2 linked regions of the Homo sapiens genome follow. The protein of the gene in region 2 purifies or fractionates together with the protein of the main gene of each other region. This does not show direct contact. Each region holds a gene or a part of one and is shown on either strand. Other genes may lie near its edges.

What was found.
Region 1: the proteins of DIPK2A (region 2) and STX17 purify together in Homo sapiens (affinity purification with western blotting; one study listed by BioGRID). This does not show direct contact.

Annotation. Positions count from the first base shown.
Region 1 is NC_000009.12:99,947,936-99,951,653, forward strand, and holds part of STX17 (syntaxin-17), read left to right. Parts: intron 1-3,124; coding exon 3,125-3,350; intron 3,351-3,718. UniProt on the Homo sapiens protein: SNAREs, soluble N-ethylmaleimide-sensitive factor-attachment protein receptors, are essential proteins for fusion of cellular membranes.
Region 2 is NC_000003.12:143,981,741-143,985,540, forward strand, and holds part of DIPK2A (divergent protein kinase domain 2A isoform a precursor), read left to right. Parts: intron 1-3,800. UniProt on the Homo sapiens protein: May play a role in cardiomyocyte proliferation through paracrine signaling and activation of the PPI3K-AKT-CDK7 signaling cascade.

The DNA of each region.
Region 1 (3,718 bases), on a different chromosome or scaffold from region 2:
TACTTTTCAAGTTTTTTTTTTTTTTCCTATTGGTTTGTTTTGTGATTTGATTTTTGTTCAACTTTTGAAGTAGCCATTAGTGGGAAGGTTAGTCTGAATCACCTAGCCTGCTGTTTTCAGAAGCAGAAACACCTGACTTTATGTTCTTCATATATGGTTTTACCATCCTGTTCCCTCTGTTTGATTTTAGAGAGATTCCCTAGTTGCCCTATCCAATGTAGTAGCTCCTAACTACATGTGACTGTTGAGCACTTAAAATGTAGCCAGTTTGAACTGAGATGTGCTGTGAATGTAAAATATATACCAGATTTCTAAGACTTACTACAAATAAAACAATGTAAAAGATTTTAAGTTTTATAATTGCATATTAAAATAGTATTTTAGCTATATTAGGTTAAATAAAATATTATTAAAATTAATTTCCCTTGTTTTTACTTTTTTAATGTAATTTAAAAAATTTTTAAATTACATATGTGGCTTGTGTGTGTGATTTGCATTATGTTTGTGTTGGATGGTGTTTGCTATGTAATAAAGTAGTTAGAACACAAGATCTGTGGTCTGGATTTGATTCTTGCCTATACTATTTACTAGCAGTGTAATCCTGGGCTACTTTTTGAACTTCTTGCTTTAATTTTCTCTTCTATAAAATGAGAATAATAGTAATATCCATTTCAAAGATATATTGTGAGGGGAAGATAAAAGACGTAAAGCTGTTAGCACAATCGATAACTTTAAGTGTTGATTAAAATTTAGCCACTATTTATGTTTTTGTTATCATTGTTGCTGTTATTATAGTATCAGATTTTATACTTCAGTGGGTTTTTTCTTTCTCTCCCTCAAAATTTTCCACATTACTCATAGTAATAGAGTTCTTAGCTGGATACTGTAATTTGACTGGGGACAGACATATGTACAAATTACATAAGTGAGGAAGGTGTCACAAACAAATGCTCATTAAGTTTGGCTGTAGAAAATTTTTAATGCTTCTCCAAGATAATATTACCTAAAATATTTCTGTAGACTGGTAACTATATAACCAAGCTTTATAATTATGGTCCAGAAAGGAGTCACATAGCCAGGAAATGGTGGTGTGTTGGAAACAGTATTGTTCTGGGACTTGAGGCCTGGGCTGTAGTCCAAATTCTGCCACTGTGTTTGTCTAGACTCCAGTTTCCTTATTGTAAAATTGTGAGGTTGTATTAGATGCTCACTTATGCCCCCTTTAAGGTTATATAATTTTAACATATTAATACCTACATTTCACATATTTTGAATCTACAGTTTAATTATCCTTAGGTTTTTCAGCTCATATTAGAATGGTAAGAGACTGAAGATAAGGTTACAGGAAGTATAGAGTCATGGTAAGATAGAGGCACAATTTTTTCACCCAGAAAAATCTTACAAGATGCTTTAGGTTGTAACTAAACTATTTTTTTTTCTAGAATTGACTTTAATTTTACTACAGTAAAATGGAAACTTTAGATTGTATTATATTAAGATACTACATAGATAGACATTATTATTATAGTTTAGTGGAAAGATTGCTGGCCCTATCGGAATATCTGGGTTTTAACCCCAGTTTTGCCACTAGATAACTTAAGTAAATCCTAAACAGGTTTTTTTTTGTTTGCTTTTTCCATATGTAATAATTTGGACTGTAATAATGTAACACCTCACTCAGAGTATGCACTTGAAAAATTAATTCTTACTTAACTGGTCTGTCTACTGTGTAGGATTTGCATTAATATTGTGAAAACACTTTAGGGGAAAATAATTTAAAATATATGAATAGACATATAACTTTTCTTACTTTGATTATTTTTGCAAATTTGTTCTATTTAATCTTAAAGGGATTGTTTCTTTGTTTTCAAAGTATAGACCATTGAGAAAGAGGGAAAGCTCCCCAGTATATTTTATGAAGTTAGCACAACCTTAAACCTGTTAAAGCAAATTTAAACCTAGTAAAGATAGTATAAATACACAAACTGTGTACATGCACACATGTATACACACACACACACACACACACACTCCTATGTGCTAAAGTTTCAAATAAAATACTAGCAAATGAATTCAGCATTGTATTTAAAAATTATATATATTGACTAGAAAGGCTTTATCCCAGGAATATAAAGATGACTCTACACTACAAAATCTGTACATAATTCATTATAGCAACATATTAGAGGTAAATTTATAACTAAGCCAGTAGGTATTTCTCAAAAAGAAGGAAAATCATTTGATAAAAATCTAACAACTTCATTCATAGGGAAGTGCAGAGTAAAGCAACAGTGAGATGACATGCAGGACTGGCAGCATGTGAAGAAATAGGCAATCATACCTTGATGCTAGTGTGAAGTGTTACTGCTTTTTGGGAAAAAAACAACAATAGCTTCTGAAATAAAAATGCACATTATCATTTGAATATTCCTGTTTCTGGGAGTCTTTCCTACACAAAATAATATATTAATATTAGTGTATACTATAATGTTAATATATACTAATATAGTAAATTAGGACTTATATGCAGGGATATTTGTTTCATAGTTTGTAATAACTAAAAATTAGGAACAACATGAATGTTGATCACCGAAGGAGTGACTGAGTAAATTATTCTACACTACACCGTGGAATATAGTGTAACCATTGAGCAGGAGGGATAATATTGTTGAGTATGGAATGGCAAATTATAGATTACTGTGTATAATGTAATCCATTTTTTAATAAAAAGGGAGAAGCCTTATATATGTTAAATGTGTGCATGAGCCGTGAGAAATGTGTGGGAGTATTGAGTTAAGAGGGGGTGGGATAGGTGAAGTGAGAATATCATTTTTATTTCATATGCTTCTGTAGTGTTTGATTTATTGTGAAGAGCATTTATTTTTGTATAACCACATTTAATGAAGGAAAAATGCTAAATAAATTCAAAGTATGAGCATGTGGGTTCCAAAGATGCTGCATTTGGCCAGCCAGAGACATGGAAAATGTAAAAGTATTATGCTACACCTTCTATTGTGGAGATATTTGTTATAATTTCCATCCACAACTATTATAACATTACTTCTGAAAAGAAAGATATCTTATACTAAGAAATGGTGGCATTAATGATTTTTTTCTTTTATAGCAACTCCGATCCAATATCCGAGAAATTGAGAAACTTTGTTTGAAAGTCCGAAAGGATGACCTAGTACTTCTGAAGAGAATGATAGATCCTGTTAAAGAAGAAGCATCAGCAGCAACAGCAGAATTTCTCCAACTCCATTTGGAATCTGTAGAAGAACTTAAGAAGCAATTTAATGATGAAGAAACTTTGCTACAGCCTCCTTTGACCAGATCCATGACTGTTGGTGGTAATGTATTGTGCTAAGTCTTATTCTCAGTCACAGTAGTGCAGTTAATTAAAGATCACCTCCTTGAGTAGATACTGAATTATCTATAGGTCTTCAGAGACCATTCACTATCCCAATATGCTGAATCCTTGGACCCTGATCAGTGTTCCTGGAAATGTGTACCCTGGATATTTTGCAGAATAAAAAATTTAAGGCTATGCTTATGGAGTGGGACTTCAGGGAAAGTACCCGTTTGTCTATTTATTGAAGAGAAATTTAAATATATTTCCTAAGGATAATGTCATTCTTGTCTGCAAAGTACTCTTTACTCCTTTCCAGGTGCAGGGGTGACCTCTTCAGGCATGCTTTTTTTTCTTAAGCATTCTGAT
Region 2 (3,800 bases):
ACTTCAACAAAAGGATATTGGCTTGAGGGAGGTTGTGTTAATCTATCTTTTGAATTCATTTTGACTGTTGTAAAGATAATTATAGCTTGGCCTAAATTTGCTTCTTACTACCTGTGTGACTTTAGGTAAATCGTTTAACACTGTACTAATAAGATTGAACTGGATTTACAATTGAGGTACAGTTAAACTCTAAATTTCTTGGATTTTACATTTCCTTTATTGATCACATAAAATATTTGATTTTGATCTAGGTAGATTATTAGGTTATTTCAGCATTTGGAATTTGTTTTGTGCTTATCAGTAATAAAAAACAAGTTAAAATACTGTGTTTTTGTGTGTACACGTTTCCAATTTTTAAGTTTCTTGCATTTTTAGTGCTTGTGGATGCTCTCTACGTTTCTTATAGCATCAGTGCTTTTAAGAGTTTAGTGACTAGTCTATATATTTCATTATGAATTAGAAATTACTAGAGGTCAGTAAAGATGTTTCTCTAATTTAGTGGTTCTTCACTCTATTTGGAAGGGGGTTCATTATTTGTAGATGCCGTTTTAGTAGGTGTTTAGGAGGTGCATGAAGATAAGCATATCTTTTGATGAATGTCTGGAATTGTTACTTAAAATTTTTAAATAGAGAAAGCCCATCAGACTAACAGCAGATCTCTCTGCAGAAACCCTGTAAGCCAGAAGAGAGTGGGGACCAATATTCAACATTCTTAAAGGAAAGAATTTTCAACCTAGAATTTCATATCCAGCCAAATTAAGCTTCATAAGCGAAGGAGAAATAAAATCCTTTCCAGACAAGCAAATGCTGAGAGATTTTGTCACCACCAGGCCTGCCTTACAAGACCTCCTGAAGGAAGCCCTGAATATGGAAAGGAAAAAACAGTACAAGCCATTGCAAAAACATACCAATTGTAAAGATGATTGACACTATGAAGAAACAGCATCAACTAATGAGCAAAATAACCAGCTAGCATCATAATGACAGGATCAAATTCACACATAACAATATTAACCTTAAATGTAAATTGGCTAAATGTCCCAATTAAAAGACACAGACTGGCAAATTGGATAGTTAGAACCCACCAGTGTGCTGTATTCAGGAGACCCATCTCACATGCAAAGACACACATGAAACATTTACCAAGCAAATGGAAAGCAAAAAAAACACAAAAAAAACAAAAGGGGTTGCAATCCTAGTCTCTGATAAAACAGACTTTAAACCAACAAAGATCATAAAAGACAAGGGCATTACATAATGGTAAACGGATCAATGCAACAAGAAGAGCTAACTATATATACATGCTCCCAGGATCAGGAACACCCAGTTTCATAAAGTAAGTTCTTAGAGACCTACAAAGAGACTTAGACTCCCACACAATAATAGTGGGAGACTTTAACACCCCATTGTCAATATTAGACAAACGAGACAGAAAATTAGCAAAGATATTCAGGACTTGAACTCAGCTCTGGACCAAGTGGACCTAATAGACATCTACAGAACTCTCCACCCCAAATCAACAGAATACACATTCTTCTCAGCATCATATTGCACTTATTCTAAAATAGTAAAACACTCCTCAGCAAATGCAAAAGAAAATCATAACAGTCTCTCAGACCACAATTCTAATTGCAGTCAAATTAGAATTCAGAATTAAGAAACTCACTCAAAATTGCACAACTACATGGAAACTGAACAGCCTGCTCCAGAATGACTACTGGGTAAATGATAAAATTAAGGCAGAAGTAAATAAGTTATTTGAAACCAATGAGAACAAAGACACAACATATCAGAATCTATGGGACACAGCTAAAGCTGTGTTTAGAGGAAAATCTATAGCATTAAATGCCCACAGGAGAAAACGAGAAAGGTGTAAAATCGACATCCTAACATCACAATTAAAAGAACTGGAGAAGCAACAACAAACAAATTCTAAAGCTAGCAGAAGACAAGAAATAACTAAAATCAGAGCAGAACTGAAGGAGATAGAGACACGAAAAACCCTTAAAAAAATCAATGAATCCAGGAGCTGGTTTTTTGAAAAGATTAGAAAAACCAGACCACTAGCAATACAAACTGTTTTGTATTGGGAAGGCTGTTTCATCTACATTTTGTATTGGGAAGGCTGTTTCATCTACATTTTGTATTGGGAAGGCTGTTTCATCTACATTGAAAATCTGTTGATTAGTCACTTCCATTAATTATCTTAGCTAGATCTTCTGGATAATTTGCTATGGTTTCTGTATCAGCACTTGCTGCTTCTCCTTGCGCTTTTATCTTACGGTGATGAATTCATTCCTTAAACTGCATTAACCAGCCTCTGCTAGCTTCAAACTTTTCTTCTGAACTCTGAGCCTTCATAGAATTGAGGAGAGTTGGGTTCTTGTTCTGGATTGGGTATTGGCTTAAGGGAATGTTGTGACTGATTTGATCTTTTATCCAGATCACTAAAACATTCTCCCTATTAGCAGTAAGGCTGTTTTGCTTTCTTAACATTTGTGTGTTCACTGGCGTAGCACTTCTGATTTCTTTTGATAATATTTCCCTTGCATTCACAGCTTGGCTGTTTGGGTTAAGAAGCCTAGCTTTCTGCCTATCTCGGTTTTAGATGTGCCTTCCTCACTATGCCTACCTATTGTTTCTAGCTTTTGATTTCAAATGAGATACCTGTAACTGTTTTCATTTGCACACTTAGAGGCCATAGTAGGATTAATAGGCTTAATTTCAGTATTGTTGTGTCTCAGGGAACAGGGAGGCCTGAGGAGAGGCCTCCCTGTTCCCTGGGGATGGCTAGTTGGTGGAGCAGTCAGAACACACACATTTATTGATTCCTTTTTTTCTCTAATGTTCATTTTCTAGTTACATATTTTAGCAGTGGAAGGTATCTTAGATAAAGCCTGTTATTTTACTTAAGGTGAAAATGAGTGTTCATGGTCATGGAACACGTTTTTTTTTGATTTAGGATGATAATCCTGCCAGTAGTTTTAAAATCCATTAGAAAACCTTGCTAAGATAAGAGTAATTTTGAGGCTAGGCCAAGGAGAACAGAAAATATGGCTGGGAAAGGGAAACAAGATGAACTTGGACCAGATGTGCTCAGAGTGGAGGTTGCATTAATAGGATATCAGTTTGTCCCTTCCCAACCTTTGGATGTAGGGTAAAAGACATCTCTCAAGAATCTTTCCCTGAATTCCACCCCATCTGCTTCCTGACTAGGAAAGGCCCCTACTAAATGATCCCCTGGGACCTGCACCACTGCTTAGTAACTAACACTTTTCATATTCATAATTATTTGTTTGGTGACTGCATGCTCTTCTAAAATAAAAGCCCATGGCTAAATGGAGACTGTTTGGTTCACCCTTAATTGCCACCGTAACACAGTGCCTGTTGCCTGGTAAATAACTGCTGGTTAATAGGCTGCAGTGCTATCAGTTTAAATAAAAGGATTGGTTGATTACATTTACACAAGTGAAGAAGATAAGGGAAAGCATAAATACTTTTAGATTTGGTAATAAAGACAGTGTCTTCCCTCTTATTGATCATTTTGGTTCTTAGATTTTGATAAGCAAGACTTGTCATCCTATTTTAGCTTTATAATGTAAAGTTCTCTATTTAAATTTTTTTCAGGTCCATAGTACTGGTATGAGTTAGGAAAAAATGAAGTTAATCTCTAATAAACTGTTGAATGTAATAAGAAAATCCAAAGTCATTCCTAGTAGCAATCTCTACTGAAAGGATCTGAGGATAGACCTAGGATATTTTCATCAGAATCTCTTGTAATATTAAGATAATTCTTTTGT